Linked DNA regions of Homo sapiens: region 2 is linked to region 1. A link means that fine-mapping ties the variant in region 1 to the expression of a gene that starts in the linked region. Tissue or cell type: sigmoid colon. Region 1 holds a variant in brackets; the other region holds the start of a gene. All regions are shown on one strand. Distances are between the middles of the regions.

Evidence for each region.
Region 2: GALNT17 starts here. The variant in region 1 is fine-mapped to the expression of GALNT17 in sigmoid colon (GTEx, PIP 0.96).

The regions. Positions count from the first base shown.
Region 1 is chr7:71,361,129-71,369,458 of GRCh38, reverse strand. All of the region lies in intron 2 of GALNT17 (polypeptide N-acetylgalactosaminyltransferase 17), which reads right to left. Among named protein-coding and RNA genes, the nearest start is that of MIR3914-1, 58 kb to the right of the region's middle. The variant A/G (reference allele first, on the strand shown) is at 4,382.
Region 2 is chr7:71,126,893-71,135,222 of GRCh38, reverse strand. GALNT17 (polypeptide N-acetylgalactosaminyltransferase 17) reads right to left here and starts at 3,079. Exons shown (of 11, transcript NM_022479.3): 1 at 2,183-3,079. The coding sequence starts at 2,420.

The DNA.
Region 1 (8,330 bases):
TCCTACGAACTTGGAGACTGCCATATTAACTTTACTCCTCACACTTTGGGCTATTGAGGAAGCTATAGAAATGGTAGTGGATACATGAGGCAGGAACTCAGGGTAGCAACAATAAATCTCTCCATAGCCTTTGTTCCTGACTCTTACCCTTTGCATCCCTAGCCTACAGGTTCCATGAGGTCAGGGACCACTAATCTTTGGCTGATATATCTACTGACATAGGTTAGGCTCATCCCAGATACTTGATAAGTATTGGTTTAATACATTAATCAATGTAACAGAGAAAAGGCATTCTGGTCATGTGTACTAAGAGTAGGTTGTGCAGAGCACAGAGTTCTAGTATTCTAGGACTTATTGAAGAACCTATAATTGTAGAAATACTGATTCCCCTCCCAGGATATCTCATTCCTGGCTGAAAATGCCACATCAGATCACTGGAGAAGAAACTCATCTCTTGCTGAGGATGGTGACTTTATTTAATTCCGATTCTTATTTCATCTCAGTGGTAAAAGCTAGGAGAGAGGAACACCCCCCCCCACCCCCGAGGAAACTGGGCAGTATAGATACGCCTCAATGCTTATCACTGATGGAGGGCCATGCCTAGCCTTTGATTTTAATATGGATCTTGTATCAGTTTAAAAATCTGTTTCTTCCTTCTTAACACACCGAAGAACAAGTATGTCTATATCACCCAGAAACATTAGCTTAACTGTGACATTTGCAAACACTGAGCATCAATTATGGGCAAGCAAAGTGTTGAGGATACAGAAATTTCTAAAATCTCACTGTTATTCTGGAAAAGCTCACAGCTCCTTAAGAAAAAAATATATATGTAAATCATAATTATGACACGGAAGGATAAATGCGACAAGAGACGTTTGTTCATCCTGCTCTGGGAGCTTATTTCTGCCTTCAAGGAGATCAACGGGGCCCAGGGAAGGTTTCACAGAGGTGACAAAATTTGAACTGGGTCATGAAGCATGAGTAAGTAATTTCCAGGTGAGGGCCTGCAAAGGGGGAGACAGGAAGACGGGAAAAACTCTCTAGGAAAAAAATGAATAGCATGTGTAAAAACAGAGGAGAGAAAATGTACAATGTACCGCCAAGAAACTGAAATAGATGTTTCAGGAAGGGACTGAGGCGAGGAAAAGAAGACAGCAGTGTACCAGGTGTTCTGAAGCCACCTTATAAAATTCAGACTTGATCCTCCAGTCATGGGAAGTCCCAGTGTCAAGGGTTTTAGACCAGAGAAGTGACATTACACAGAGCATGTGTGTTAATCAAAGAACAACATAGCATCCCTTCAGGTCCAACCAAGATGCGTGTGTGCACGCTCTCTTCCCCAGATCACAATCCTCCCCCTCCCCACGTCTGTTCTTCGGCTCCTCCCACGGCCCCAGAGATTCTGCCACTGCCTTTTGGCCCCAAGCAATGGGGAATGTGTGGAGACATCTTCCGTGGGCAGTCAGAACTGGCTCAGAGAGCCCAAGTCCTCTCCTAGGGTCCAGTGCTCTGGCTGGTGACCTGCTAGTTCTCTGTGTGGCTCCATCACAAGTCCCCTCTTCCTTATTCTGAATAAAGACCACCAGTAAAAGGTACTTCCTTGACCACATAACTTACCTAATTAACAATGGCAGCTTGTTCTATGCAGCTGACTGCATCGTTGGCAGAAAACGGTGTTTTCCAGCCTAAATCATCAGAACTACAAACAAGGCATTTGGTCTGATAGGAAGAGCCCCAAATAGAAGGGGGCATTTGACCCCTGAAATTAAATTTGAAAGGAGCTGGTGGACTCGTCAGTGGCTAGTGAGACCAGTCAAAGAAATTGGCAACTCACTAGATCTGATTTCTCAATTTCCCGGTGGCCTCAGGCATTGGGGGCCCCACTGTAACCTGGAACCATCTGTTAAAGGCAAACAACCACATAGATTAGGGACACTTGTCTGGAAACCACCAACAAACATGTCAAACAGAAGGGAAGCTCGGTCTATACCAAATAGGTTCCCTTCTCGGCTGTCATTATGATGTGTGGTCCAAATGCCAGTGGTCCAGACTGTCCCCTTCCCACCTCCCCTGCACACATGTCAAGGTAAACCCATGGCCAGCGCTTGGGATTTGGGGTTTCCACCTATATGTTTTTTGGTCCCATACCCTTCATCAGTTTATCCTCAGGCTAACACCCAGCTAGAACCTACTGATGTTTTACAAAGATACTCAGAAGCCTATAAGGAAGAAGTATTGATGAGGAGAGGCAAGAGAAGTAGATGGATAAGATTACGGCAGTGGTTTTACAAGAGACATGAAGGAATCCAGGGTCAAAGAGGAATGTTTTTTATTGATCAAAGGTATTGCTTGAGACAATTAAATAGTCATGAATATACATACCTAACAACATAGTTCACCAATAGGTAGAACAAAATGTATTGAAAATCCATGAACTAAAAGACAAAAAGTCTCGGTCCGAGTGAGTGATATGAACAAATGTCTCTCAGAAATCAACAGAAGGAACCCACATATTCAATAAATACATGAAGAGATGATCAACCTCTGTAATAGTCAAAGAAAGGCATCCAAGAACTATAAAGAAATATTTTTTTAGCCTTCAGGTTGGCAAAACAAATGAAGACTGGTCTTACCTAGGGAGTCAGGTGTGAGGAAGGCCACTCATGTACTGTTGGGTGACATATAAACAGGCAGAGTCCTTTAGAGAGCAAGTCGGCAGAATCTTTCAAGATTAAAAATGGACATGTCTAACATATTCATGCATAAGAAAACAGCAGAAGGACACACAAGAAACAGCCAACAGTAGTCACCTTTGCTGAGAAGAGAGAGATCTGGGGCTGGGGCTTGAAGAGGATTTCTTGTTTGTTTGTTTGTTTGAGACAGAGTCTCGCTCTGTCGCCAGGCTGGAGTGCAATGGCACGATCTCAGCTCACTGCAACCTCCGCTTCCCAGGTTCAAGCAATTCTCCTGTTTCAGCCTCCCGAGTAACTGGGATTACAGGCGCCCGCCACCATGCCTAGCTAATTTTTGTATTTTTAATAGAGACAGGGTTTCACTATGTTGGCCAGGATGGTCTCGATCTCTTGACTTCGTGATCCACTCGCCTCGGCCTCCCAAAGTGCTGGTACAGGTGTGAGCCACCGTGCCCAGCCGAGGGTTTCTTTTTCTATGTATACACCTAGATCACAGGTCCCCAACCCCTAGGCCTCGGAACAATACCAGTCTGTGACCTGTTAGAATCCAGGTCACACAGCAGGAGGTGAGCGTCAGGAGAGTGGGCAAAACTTCTTCTGTATTTACAGCCTCTCCCCATCTACTCACGTGACCACCTGAGATCTGCCTCCTGTCAGCTCAGCAGCAGCATTAGATTCTCGTAAGAGTGCAAGCCCTATCGTGAACTGAGCATACGAGGGATCTAGGTTGCGAGCTCCTTATGAGAATCTAATGCCTGATGATCTGTCACTGTCTCCCATCACCCCCAGATGGGACCGTCTAGTTGCAGGAAAACAAGCTCAGGGCTCCCCATGATTCTACATTGTAATGAGTTGTGTAATTATTTTATTATATATTACAATGTAATAATAATAGAAACAAGTGCACAATCAATGGAATGAGCTTGAATCATCCCCAAACCAACCCACCCCTCACCCCCAGTTCATAGAAAAATTGTCTTCCATGAAACCAGTCCCTGGTACCAAAAAGGCTGGGAACTGCTGATCTAGACAATTCATAAATAACATATTCAACTGTCATTTGGATACTTTCTTTAAATTAAAAAAAAAAGAATTTAAAACTCTATTAAAACTATTAAATTTGGCAGGAAATCATAGGAGACATCTGCACATTTCAATACAGTGCTTACTATGCTGAGCTGTGGAGGGAGTGATGGATGCAACAGATTAAAACTATTCCTCCTGGGTGGGCGCTGTGGCTCACGCCTATAATCCCAGCACTTTGGGAAGCCGAGGCGGGTGGATCACCACAGGTCAAGAGATTGAGATCATCCTGGCCAACATGGTAAAACCCCATCTCTACTAAAACTACAAAAAATTAGCTGGGAGTGGTGGCGCACGCCTGTAGTACAGGTATTCAGGAGGCTGAAACAGGAGAATTGCTTGAGCCTGGGAGGCAGAGGTTGCAGTGAGCTGAGATCGCACCACTGCACTCCACCCTGGCAGCAGAGCGAGACTCTGTTTCAAAAAAACAAAAACTATTCCTTCCATGACCGGATGTGGTGGCTTATGCCTGTAATCCCCGTGCTTTGGGAGGCTGAGGCAGGCAGATCACTTTAGGTCAGGAGTGTGAGACCAGCCTGGCCAACATGGTGAAGCCCAGTATCTACTGAAAATACAAAAGTTAGCCAGGCATGGTGTTGCAC[A/G]GGCCTGTAATCACAGCTACTTGGGAGGCTGAGGCAGGAGAACCGCTTGAACCCAGGAGGCAGAGGTTGCAGTGAGCCAAGACCATGCCACTGCACTCCAGCCTGGGGGACAGAGTGAGACTCCATCTCAAAATAAAAATAATAAAAAAAAGTATTAAAATGATTCCTTTTAGAAATCTGGGAATGCAGGGGAAAGATAGGAGAAGGGAAGTAGATTAAAGAAGCGGAATTTTCACTTGGCATTCAGCCCCAGCAAATGAGTTCCTCTCATCTTACATTCCTACATCTTTAAAGAATTTTGCTCTCCACTCAGCCAGCAGGTGGGATTGTAAGCAGAAAGCATGCTAAGCTCTAGTAGGCAAAGTCATGCCTTCTTCAAAATGAGTGTCCTGACATACCTCCCTCTTTTCTCCCTAAGACAGTTTTGCTCCCTGACTCCATGCCTGGGTTTAAAAATTGCTTTAATGAGTCATTGAAAACGGGTTCTAATGAAAAATATTTAGTCACACATCTGCACTACCCCATAAAATGTTCTACTTTCCTCACTGGTCCAAAGGAATATTGCCAGGAATGCCATTTACCTGGCAAAATGGTATGTTGCCTTGGGAATCCCACCCCATACAACGACCTCACAGAAGAGAGGCAGAATTAGGCCCAGCAGGATATTGGTGGAGGGCACTGAGTCCTGTGAAAACCAGGACTGAAGCGAGACACTCCATCCAGGACACTCAGAGAAGGAAAAGATAAAACTGTGTGGGAGCACCAAGATCCTACATGCCAAGAACTGAGGAAGGCAGAACACCAAATCTGTACTGAGGCCTGACTTCAAATCTCTGGCCTGCCACTAACTACTGTTAAATTAAGTTTAGCCTAATAAGAATGATACAATGGACTTTGGGGACTTGGTGGTAAAAGTGGGAGGGGAGGTGAGGGATAAAAGGCTACAAATAGGGTGCTGTATATACTGCTCGGGTGATGGGTGCACCCAAATCATCACTAAAGAACCTACTCATGTAACCAAATACCACCTGTACCCCAATAACTTATGGAAAAAAACATGTATATATGTAAGTTTAGCCTAAAGCTGCCTCCTTGCATACTTTAAGTTAAACCTCAAGGTTTCTCCATAAATAGTGGACTGTAACCTTACTGGATATGGAAACAAACTGTCACCTATTCTTGTGCCAATCACTGAGTTTCGGCCAATCAAAGGTGGCCAACTGTTCAAACTGTGCTCAAGTAAGGCAAACACTGAGCTGTAATCAAGAAGCTGCTTCTCTACCTTGCTTCTGTTTTCCGTCCACCACTCTCCTTTTGCTGTCCTTAAATCTTTATCCACCACGCGGCTGTCCGATCTGCGAATCCTTCTTTGCTCAATTAAACTCTGTTTCATTTAATTTGTCTAGGGTTTTCTTTTTAATATCAGCTATACGAAAGTTACTTAACTGCTGGAAGGGAATACTAAAGAAGGCTGGTTTTGAAGTCGGAGAATGAAGAAATCAGAGAATGGAGCAGAATTCCAAGTTGGGGAGATCATCATGGACACAGAAAGGTCTCAATCAAAGGGAATGGGGGTGATGGAGCTGTCCAGAGAAAGCCGCCAAACTGGCGGCTGGCATTGGCTGCTGGTCTCACTAGAGTGACCAGGACACAACGTGTGTTTGCAAAAGATTGCTCTGCTCTGAGGGTAAGGACTTTGCCTCTCAATCACCACTGTATTTTCCAGTGCCTGGTGCATTTCAGGGTACACCATCTACACTCCAAAACTATTGCTTATTGAGTACATTAACACATTAGAAATGGAACAAAGTGGCCAGGTGCAGTGGCTCACGACTGTAATCCCAGCACTTTGGGAGGCCGAGGTGGGTGGATCACTTGAGGTCAGGAGTTCAAGACCAGCCTGGCCAACATGGTGAAACCCTGGCTCTACTAAAAATACAAAAATTAGCCAGGCATCGTGGTGCGTGCCTGCAATCCCAGCTACTCAGGAGGCTGAGGCAGGAGAATCACTTGAACCCAGAAGATGGAGGTTGCGGTCAGCTGAGATCGGGCCACGGCACTCCAGCCTGGGTGACAATGTGAGACTCTGCCTCAAAAAAAAAAAGAAAGAAAGAAAGAAAGAAATGGAAGAAGGTGTGGAGGGCAACATGTTCAGGGGTCCTGTATTTAGAGTTGGGGAAAGGAGTGTTCAGCGTGGCTGAGATTTACACAGCATCAAACAACCCGTGTACGGTCTTTCAGTCAAGACCTGAGTCGCCCTTTGAACAGTAGCAAATCAGCCATGTTTCCTTCACGACTCACGGGGAAGGCTTTCAGCGGGGCAGGGTTAGGTGGAGCGTTTCCCGTAAAAATATACACAAATGGATTTGTTTTCTTGGGGCACTTTTGCCAAGAAAAATGCCACTAAATCAGCATCTTGGCCATGAAAAAAAGCAACAGCAAGTCTTCATCTGAATCACACAGCCACGTGGGATGCGTTCCCTTAGGCCTGTGCACAGGCATTAAGGAGGCAAAATGGGATCAATGAATTTCTTTGTTAATCTTGATATTTGCAGGAAGCCAGCGAACCAAGCACTCTGCAAATCACCAGCTTTAATCTTCAGAATTACTTATACTGCCATTTAGGAGAATTTTGTTTTCTGGGGAGATCTGCACACAGCAGGCGGCAAACATTCTAATTGCTGTTAAGTACATTTGGTGTAATATGTTGGGGGAAATGTAGTCTTTGAATCAGTTAAGCATGAACACACATGCTCAGGGGCAGAATGTAAGTTTGTACACAAAGAAGTGATTTAGTCACAAAGACAAAATCTCATACAAAGCCGGGCGCGGTGGCTCACGCCTATAATCCCAACATTTTGGGAGGCCGAGGCAAGTGGATCACTTGAGGTCAGGGGTTCGAGACCAGCCTGGCCAACATGGAGAAACCCCGTTTCTACTAAAAATACAAAAAATTAGCCAGGCGTGGTGGCAGGCGCCTGTAATCCTAGCCACTCGGGAGGCTGAGGCAGGAGAATCTCTTGAACCCAAGAGGCAGAGGTTGCAGTGAGCTGAGACTGCACCACTGTACCCCAGCCTGGGCAACTGAGGGAGACTCCATCTCAAAAAATAAAAATAAAAAGTAAAAATCTCATACAGGAAAAGAACCTGCCTCCTCCAGCCATGAACAGCACCTAGCCCAGCCCCAGCCGTAGTTCAATCACATAAACAAACGCCCAAATTGTGCTCAACCTTTTATCTTCCTGCCTGCCCACTCTCTCTCTCTCTCTGTCTCTCTCTCTCTCTCTCTCTGAGTTCATTTGCAGTCAAGATGCAATGCTATTTATAACACATATTGTGCTGGAGTCACCAGGATTTGCAACCTGAAGCTGAAGACATTCAATCTATGCAATAGAAATAAAACTCAACGAAACTCAACATCACAGCTATTTTATTCTGCCAAGTATTATAGCCAGACACATATGCTTCTCCTACTAGATGAAAAAACTCCTCGTAGCCAGGGGGCAGGTCTTGTGCATTTTCACATTCCTTAAGCTCTGAGCTCTGTGTCTACTATATAGTAAATATACAATAGGTATTTGTTGAACTGAATTGAAGATGACTTTCCAAGAATTAGTGAGAAAGAACAGAGAGGAATATCGAAAGGGGAAGAAACCTTCAAGGCGGTCTCAGATAATAGAAATGGTGTCCCTGGGTTTCAAGTGCTAAAACTTCCCATGAGAAGCACACTGATAAAGTCTGTAGGCACCCATATCACAGGTAAAATGCAAGACTCAAATGTTGTTGATAGTGGTTTTTTATTTTTTATTTATTTTGTATTTCAATTGACACCCCCCCAGGTGTTTCTTATGCCCATGAAGTTTTGAGAGTAACTGGTATAGATAGTAAAAACTGTAAAAGCAGATATAGGAATGACCACTGTTGGCTACAGCACTGCATACCAGAAATT
Region 2 (8,330 bases), 230 kb after region 1:
TATTATTCCTATGAGGGAAGTTAGGGTACAGCTATATAATATTTAATGCTCCTAATTGAAACTAATACTGGGGCCAGGCATGGTGGCTCACGCCTGTCATCCCAACACTTTGGGAGGCCCAGGCAGGAGGATTGCTTGAAGCCAGGAATTCGAGACCAGCCTGGACAACCTAGCAAGACCCTGTGTCTACAAAAAATTAAAAAATTAGAAGGGCATGGTGATGCACACTTGTAGACCCAGCTACTTGGGAGGCTAAGGCCAGAGAATGACTTGAGCCCAGGAGTTTGAAGCTTCAGTGAGCTATGATTGCACCACTGCACTCCAGCCAGGGGGACAGAGCGAGAAGACCCTGTCTCAAAAAAAAAAAAAAAAAAAAAAAAAAAAAAACCATAAAACAAAGAAACTGATACTAAACTAACCTGTGTCCCTGAGAAAAGCCTGATGAGGGAAACCAGGTTAACCTTTGAAGTTCCTATGGGTATGTCTACAGCAGGAATCTATCCCAAATTATAAGGCCACCCCGTAAGTTTCTGATTCCTCCAGAAATGAACTATGGGTTTTTGTCGCATTCTGTGCCATATTTCTGACACCTGAGAGAAGAGCTTCTGCATAACTTCCGTGGGCTACCCTGACAGTCAGGCCATATACCCTGCAAGTTCAAGGCATCCCCTGGATATCTGTCAAATGGCTTCGAGAAGACCGCAGCGTCCTTTCACCTGCTCAGAGATCTGACCACCCCTCTCCCTCCATCCCATCCCTCCCCCAGTACCCAGCAGGGACCTTTGGTGAGCCTGAAAAGAACCATTTGCCATCCTCCTTCTCCCTGCCCCTTGCCACCACAGTGAAGACAGTTGAGATCCTCCAATGTGAGAAGGTATATGTCTGTATTTGCAATTCCACATATTTCTGTTTTCAACAAACCTAATACTCCTTTCACTTAGGGGAAAACCATGGATAGAAGTTTGAGCCTAAGAGGTCAAGCGCACAGGCTCTGTGGTCAACCAGACACAGGGTTCTGACTCCAGACTCTATTATTATTCCGATTACAGAGGTTTGGGGCGCAGTTATATCTTATTTAACACAGGGCAACTTAGTTAACCTCCCCTCGCTTAGTCTTCTCATTTCCCCTCTGTGGATGGGTGGAGCCTCGCTGGACAGATGTGAACATACAGTGAGATAATGTACTTGTAATGTCTTTGCACGCATCTGGCACAGAGCAAGAATTCCATCAGTTATTATTATCACGATCTTCGTGATTATCTGCAGTTCGTTTGAGAACATGAGTTACAAGCTCAGAAAGGGAGGAGGTAGTCTGTACCTAAGTACGTATCTGCCTTGGATAACCCCACGCATCCTGGAAACCTGCCTGTACTCAGGTAGGTAACACTCACTCTGACGTTGGGGACAGCTAGTGTCCAATGACCTGGCCCAGGTGTGACAAGAGCACATAAAAAGTCTCCCTCTTCTCCTGAAGTACTGAGCACAACATTTTAGATGGGACAGATTCAGACAACTGTCACTAATGGGATGCCACATCTCTCTGTGCTACATTCTGGAAACTTCGCAGGCCCACCCTGAGCTTTAACAATCGCCCCTCCGCAGCCCCCAAGGAGAAACACAGGCGGCAGGAAGGGAGGAGTCCTCATTCTTAGCTGAGCAGCTCGCCTCATAGACAGATGACATATTCCTCCCATATACTACCTAAGCGCATTAGCTCCGCGACCTGGGGCCTTGACTTTGTCTGCAGACATCCAAGCCCTCCAATCTCCCAGGTTCCCTACTGGTACCCCACCAAACGCTGGGCTCTAAGACTATTTCCTCCTACACGTCTGCCCGCGCGCCTCCAGTCCCATGTGGCCCCTCCACTAGTTTCTGCGCTCGGGCTGGAGTCGCCAGGGAATGATTTCCAGTCCGCACGCGGGGACCGGGAGCCAACTGTACTGACATGTTTCCAGGATAAAACCAAATTTGCAGGTGGGGCACAGAAAAGAATCAGGCAAGTTGTTCTTTCCAGCAGCCCCGGCCATCTGCCCGAAACGGGGCAGGAAGGGTAAGAAGGAGCGCGCGGGAGCCAGGGTGTGCCGGCTCCCAGGCACAGGGCGCAGCGCGCAAGGACCCTGGGGCTCACCCTGTGCCCGGCCCGCCCGCGTCGAGCCCCGGAGGCGCCGGCGTGCGTCCTTACCATTCAGCTGCCGGTACACGATGTCCTCCAGCAGCGACAGGCGCTTCAGGACCGCATCCTGGATGGGGCTGGCGCTGTGCGCGCTGAGGTTGGCCACCTCGGCGCGCGGCCGGATCTCGTGGAAGGCGTCTCCGCTGCGCACCGCGATGGGCCGGCACTTGGCCAGGAAGAGCACGAAGCCGGCTACCGCGATCAAGTTCAACACCAACAGCACTTTGACTCTTCTCAGTGAAGCCATCAAACAGCCCGGCCGGCCCTCGCCCCGGACCTGCGCCCCCTCGGGCTCCGGCGAGGCGCGGGGCAGCCAGGGGCCGTGCAAGCCTCACACACCAGACGGCCGGCAGGGATCCAAGCCCCTGCTCGTCCCACCTCAAGGATGCTCGGGCGGCGGAGACGGCTGGGAGGTCGGATTGGTGGTGGGGAGAACGGAATCGCTCACATGGAAGTCCTCGCTCTGCAGAAGTGCTCCCCGAGACGCCTGCTCAGTCCACGGCGCACGGCCCCGTCCAGGCGTCTCCGCGAAAGGCCAGGGATTTGAGGGTTTCTCTTCTGCACCAGCAAGTGGTTCGCCTCTGGACCTCTAGCCGCCGGCGCCGCGGACTCCGAGGCCGGCAGGCGGGGCTGCCCGGGAGGCACAGAGGGAGCGGCGCACAGGTGCCGGACTCAGGGATCGCCGCCCGCCCACGGCGGAGCGCGCCGCGCCTGGGGCCGCACAGCCTCCCACCTTGGCCCGCAGGCGGCCGTCGCGGCGCGCCACCCGCGCTCTTCAGCGGAAGACCCGCTCCCCCGGGCAGGCGCCTTTGTTCCGCTCACCGACCCGCTCCATCGCGCCGGGCAGAGGGGAAGCCCGCTCGGGGAGCCCGCATCCTCCAGGCTCCGCAGTCACGCTCAAGTCTCAATTACTCTCAAAGTGGGGGCAGCACTAGGGGGCGGGCGCCGGGCCGAGCGCTACGTCCTCTCCGCCCCCCGCGCGGAGTCCACCCCACCCCGCCGGCAAACTCACCAGCGCTCACAGCGCCGCCGGCTCCCGGACACGTTCCAAGCCCCCAAACCGCGCCGAGAGCCTTCGGGGCCTTCAGGGCACACCGGCCTGTCTCGGAGCTGGCGCGTCGCGAGGCTGGCCGGAAGGAGTCGGACCTCAAAAGTCACAGCAGTTCTCTACCCCCTCCCAAAACGTCGCGGGCAGCGCGGCGGGGAGGTACGCGTGCCGAATCACCCTCCGCTCGCCAGATCCGGCCGCGCGGCTCGTCCCGCGCCCCCGGGAGCCAAAACGCCGAGTCTCCCAATTGGCGGACGCGGTGACACCGCCGCTGCGGCACCGAGAGCCACACAGCCCCGGAGCTGAGGAGCCCGGAGGGGACGCGCAGGTGGCGGCGGAGGGCGGGGCGCGGCCCGAGGGGAGCGGCGGCGGCGCCAGCTCCTCCTCCGCCGCTCTTCGCCACCCTGTCCCCGAGAGGCTGTCGGCGGCCGCCGCCGCCGCCCGCAGGCTGCCGAGCGCACAGCTCCCCGGTTCGCCGACTCGTGCGCGCGCGCACCCGGGCAGGGCGGGGGCTTCTGGAGAGTGGGGACCGCGCGGGATGGAGGCAGTCAAGGCATGCTGGCTGCGGCCGGCGCTGGAGGGACCCTTTAGTTCTCAGTACTCCCTGAGCGGGCGGGTTCGTTCCATCCCGGTTGGCGATGAAGACATCCTTTTCTGTGTGCTCGCGGCTCCGCGCTGCGTGGCCAGGAATGGCTAGAGGGAAAATCTGGCCTGGAGGCTCGGATTCTGAGACCTTCGGAGCCAGGCCGGGCGTGAGCGGGCTTGGGGGGGTTCTCTGCGTGCAAGAATTCTAACCTCCCCAGTCACTGCTTCTAGGCCCACCCGCTGCTCTGTTCAAATTTTATTATAAGAAGCATATTCATTTGGCTCCTGGTTTTCCACTACCTCTTCCTCTTCCCAAAACCCAGGAACTCGAAATACTGGAATTCAACGCCCCCCCACCCCGGTTGATCCATTTAATTCCTTGGGTCTAAAATAGAAATCAGGCCGCCAACTAATAAAAATCGGGCAGCAAAGCTAAATGGAGCTGATCGTTTTCCCCTCATCATTTTGATCTCATTAAAGTTTTTGTTTTTGTTTTTGCGGTTGTTTTGGTTTTTTCTGGGGCTTGGTTTCTTGTTTTGTTTTTGCCTGTGTATTATTTTAAGTTTTGATTTTTAACATAGAAATGTATATGCAAAAAAATAGTCTTTTTATTTCATTCCCTTGGAATTCTCTGCCTGGGTGCAATCGGGTCCTCAGGGCGCATGCTTTGTAAAATCTACCTGAAAGTGGACACAAAACAGTTAAAAAGGCCCAAGGGATGATTTTTAGCCACACATGTTAGGCAAGAGAGAGGCTGTGTGGGAAGAAACTTGGGTTACTGAGCATCTCATGGAGTATCCAGTTGAGTTGGGTGTTATTATAACCACACTACAGATGGAGCTAGCACAATCAATGGAAGCTTCTGCAAAAATAATTTTTGAACATTCACTCAGCCGCAGGACTGAAGCCAGGGAGGCTGAGGCATTGGGCTAGGGTGCCCGAGAAGCAGTAAGTGGCTCTAAGTATGTGCTTGAGGCTGACTCTCAAGCGTGTGCATATTTGGGAGTGGAAGACAGGAAACAAAGTAGAGGAAACAGCCTCAGAGTAATCGAGAAGTTTCCAGGCAAATTTCAATTTCAGAGAGATTTCTGTGCTTTCTCTAAAGCCAGAGAGGTCCCTGATGCAAATTAACTTTTGGCTTTATCATGCATCCTCCAGGAGCCTCCTCTCAGCTCCTGCACGCATTCTGGGCAGCTTCTGTGTTCAAAAATGACACTGGACACTACTCAATGAGTGACCCACTGTCATGGCCTCATCCTGAACCCTGTATTCACAGAGGAGCCTTCCACTCCTGCAATCCTGCACTAAAATCCCAGCCTGTTATTACTGTTCCCTAGCTTTTTACCTCTCCCATTCTCAACTCCAAACAAACATATTCTCCAGCCAACAACTTCCTTCTCCTTCCCAGGTGTCCATGCCTCTCTATCCCCTCTGGAGTTCCTTCCCTCCTCTTTCTGGAGTTCATGGTTAGTCATTTATTTCAAACACATTCCTAATAGGGCCTGCTATTAAGGATCATGCACATGTATATCATATTTTTCCACTGCCCCAGCCTAGCAATCCCCAACTCTGAATCAATTTCACCTTCTTCTTTCTCAACCCAAGGACAAAGGCAAGAGCAAGTGTACCCAGGGAAAAACCACATCATCTCAAAGCCTGCAGGCATTTCCAATTGGTGGTGTCTAACCTTACCTGGGCCTTCGATTCTACTGAAAAGCTCTATTCCATGTCCCTAGCCAGCTCCTCTCCCTAGAGACACCCTAGCTAGACTTCAGGAGTTCATGAATAGCTCTCAATCAGATGAAAAAGTGTATCTGCATGTTACATAGACATTTTTCTGGGGAAAAGACCTGTAAGTTTCATCAGATTCTCAACATAGTCAATGACCCTAAAAGTTTAAGGACCTGCCTAGCATGTTATATATGCAAAAACATAATCAACTAAACGTTTATTATATACCAGCTGCTTCTGAAACCAACAAAACTACACTTCAGTGGCTGTGTGGTCTGCTCGCCATAAGGTCTGGGTTCCAGTCCCATTTCGGTCACCAAAGAATAAATCTGTTCTTGACTTTAAAAGAAGAAATTTATCTTGGATGGCACCCAAAACCATTCCCAGTCATAAAACTCAGTTTAACTACAAAAGCTTTATCAAAAGAGTTTCTTTGGTTGGTTGGTTGAGCAAACTGAAAGGAAAGAGACCAATGGTATTTCTGTGCAAGGATTTTTTATTTCAAATACATTTTTCACTCAACCATGGTTCAAATAACATATGCCTTTGACATGACTCTGTCCCCTTTGTTTGTCTGTTAAAAATGTATCGCATCTCATCTGAGTCCATAACAGGAGTTAAAATACTTGGAGTTTCGCCAAGGGAAACCAGGGACTCATCTCTCTACAGAGGTTTGGCCAACTCATTTACTCTTGCTAGAATTCGCGAGGCAAAGCCTTCACTCTCATAAAACCCTGAGCATTGCAAAAGATACTGGAGTTTTGGTTGTTATAATTTCAACTTTCATTTTAGACACAGAGGGTATACGTGCAGGTTTGTTACATGAGTATATTGTGTGATGCTAAGGTTTGGGGTACGGATTCTGTCACCCAGGTACTAATGAGCATAGTAACCAATAGAACCAATAGGTAGTTTTCTTTCTTTCTTTCTTTCTTTTTTTTTTTTTTTTGAGAGAAGTCTTGCCGTTGCCCAGGCTGGAGTGCAGTGGCACGATCTGGGTTCACTGCAACCTCCACCTCCTGGGTTCAACCGATTCTCCTGCCTCAGCCTCCCAAGTAGCTGGGATTACAGGCAGGGCCACCACGCCTGGCTAATTTTTGCATTTTTAATAGAGATGGGATTTCGCCATGTTGGCCAGGCAGGTCTCGAACTTCTGACCTCAGGTGATCTGCCTGCCTCGGCCTCCCAAAGTGCTGAGATTACAAGAGTGAGCCACTGTGCCCGGCTGGTAGTTTTTCAATCCATTTCCCCCCCACCCCCCTTGTAGTAGCCCCAGTGTCCATTGTCCCCATCTTGATGTCCACACATACTCAATGTCTAGTGCCCGCTTATAAGTGAAAACATGCAGTAATTGGTTTTCTGTTCCTGCGTTAATCCTCTTAGGATTATGGCCTCCTACCTGCAGGGTGTTTTTTATTTTGTTTTGTTTTGTTTTTTGGACGGAGTTTCTCTCTTGTCGCCCAGGCTGGAGTGCAATGGCATGATCTCGGCTCACCACAACCTCCGCCTCCCAGGTTCAAGCGATTCTTCTGTCTCAGCATCCCGAGTGGCTGAGATTACAGGCACATGCCACCACACCAGGCTAATTTTTGTATTTTTTTTTTTTTATAGAGACAGGGTTTCTCCATGTTGGTCAGGCTGGTCTTGAACTCCTGACCTCAGGTGATTTGCCCACCTCAGCCTCCCAAAGTGCTGGGATTACAGGAGTGAGCCACCGCGCCCAGCTACAGATTTTTTAAAGGAGGAAACAAAAAGACATGAATCTACCTCCCCGCTTCAAGAATTCACAGTGTAGCAGTGGTGGGGAGCTTACACGGGAGATAAGTAAACAGGGAGAGACCAAGCTGTGCTGACTGTGCTCAGTGCCTAGGTATTGTGTGTCAGGCATTGTACATGCATCAGCCTAGCCTCACCATTGAATCTGCTGTGTGACCTTGAGCAAATTACCTCACTTCTCTGGGCATTACCCATTTTTATTTTTCTAGCTGTCAAACAGGAATAATATCCATAATATTACCTCTTGAAGTTGCAAGCATAAATGAGCTAATATGTGTAAATTGCTTAGCTCAGTGCTAGGCATCTAATAAGCACCATGGAAATAAACAAAGACCACCCAAGTGAGGACAAGCAAAGGCTGTCTATTCTGAGCTTGCTATTGCAAGGGAGTCAGCCATCATTCCTTGCATGTGGTAGAAACTCAAAGGCAGGCAGAGGAAAGAAAAGAAAAACTTCTAGGGGCTGAGCGAGGTGGCTCACGCCTGAAATCCCAGCACTTTGAGAGGCCAAGGTGGGCAGATCACCTGAGGTCAGGAGTTCGAGACCAGCCTGGCTAACATGGTGAAATCTTGTCTCTGCTAAAAATGCAAAAATTAGCTGGGCGTGGTGGGACACCTCCCAGCTACTAGGGAAGCTGAAGCAAAAGAATTACTTGAACCCAGGAGACAGAGGTTGCGGTGGGCCAAGATCGCCCTACTGCACTCCAGCCTGGGCGACAGAGTGAGTTTCCATCTCAAAAAAAAAAAAAAAAAAAGAAAGAAAGAAAAGAAAAAGAAAAGCTTCTGGGGCGTGAAAGGGACAAGTGCACCCTGACTGAAGGCCGCTGGTCTGGGGAAGCGGGAGGTGGGCTAACTTAGAAGCAGGGTTTCCATGTGATCAGTGAGGAGGACATATTTCACTTTCTTTGGTTGGTTCAAAATTGAAAATTGGGCAAAAATCTGAGAAGCTGGCAGCCATGTCCTGGCCATGTTGAGCCACTTGCGGCAGATGTTTCAAGTCAGAGTTCTTTTTTTTTTT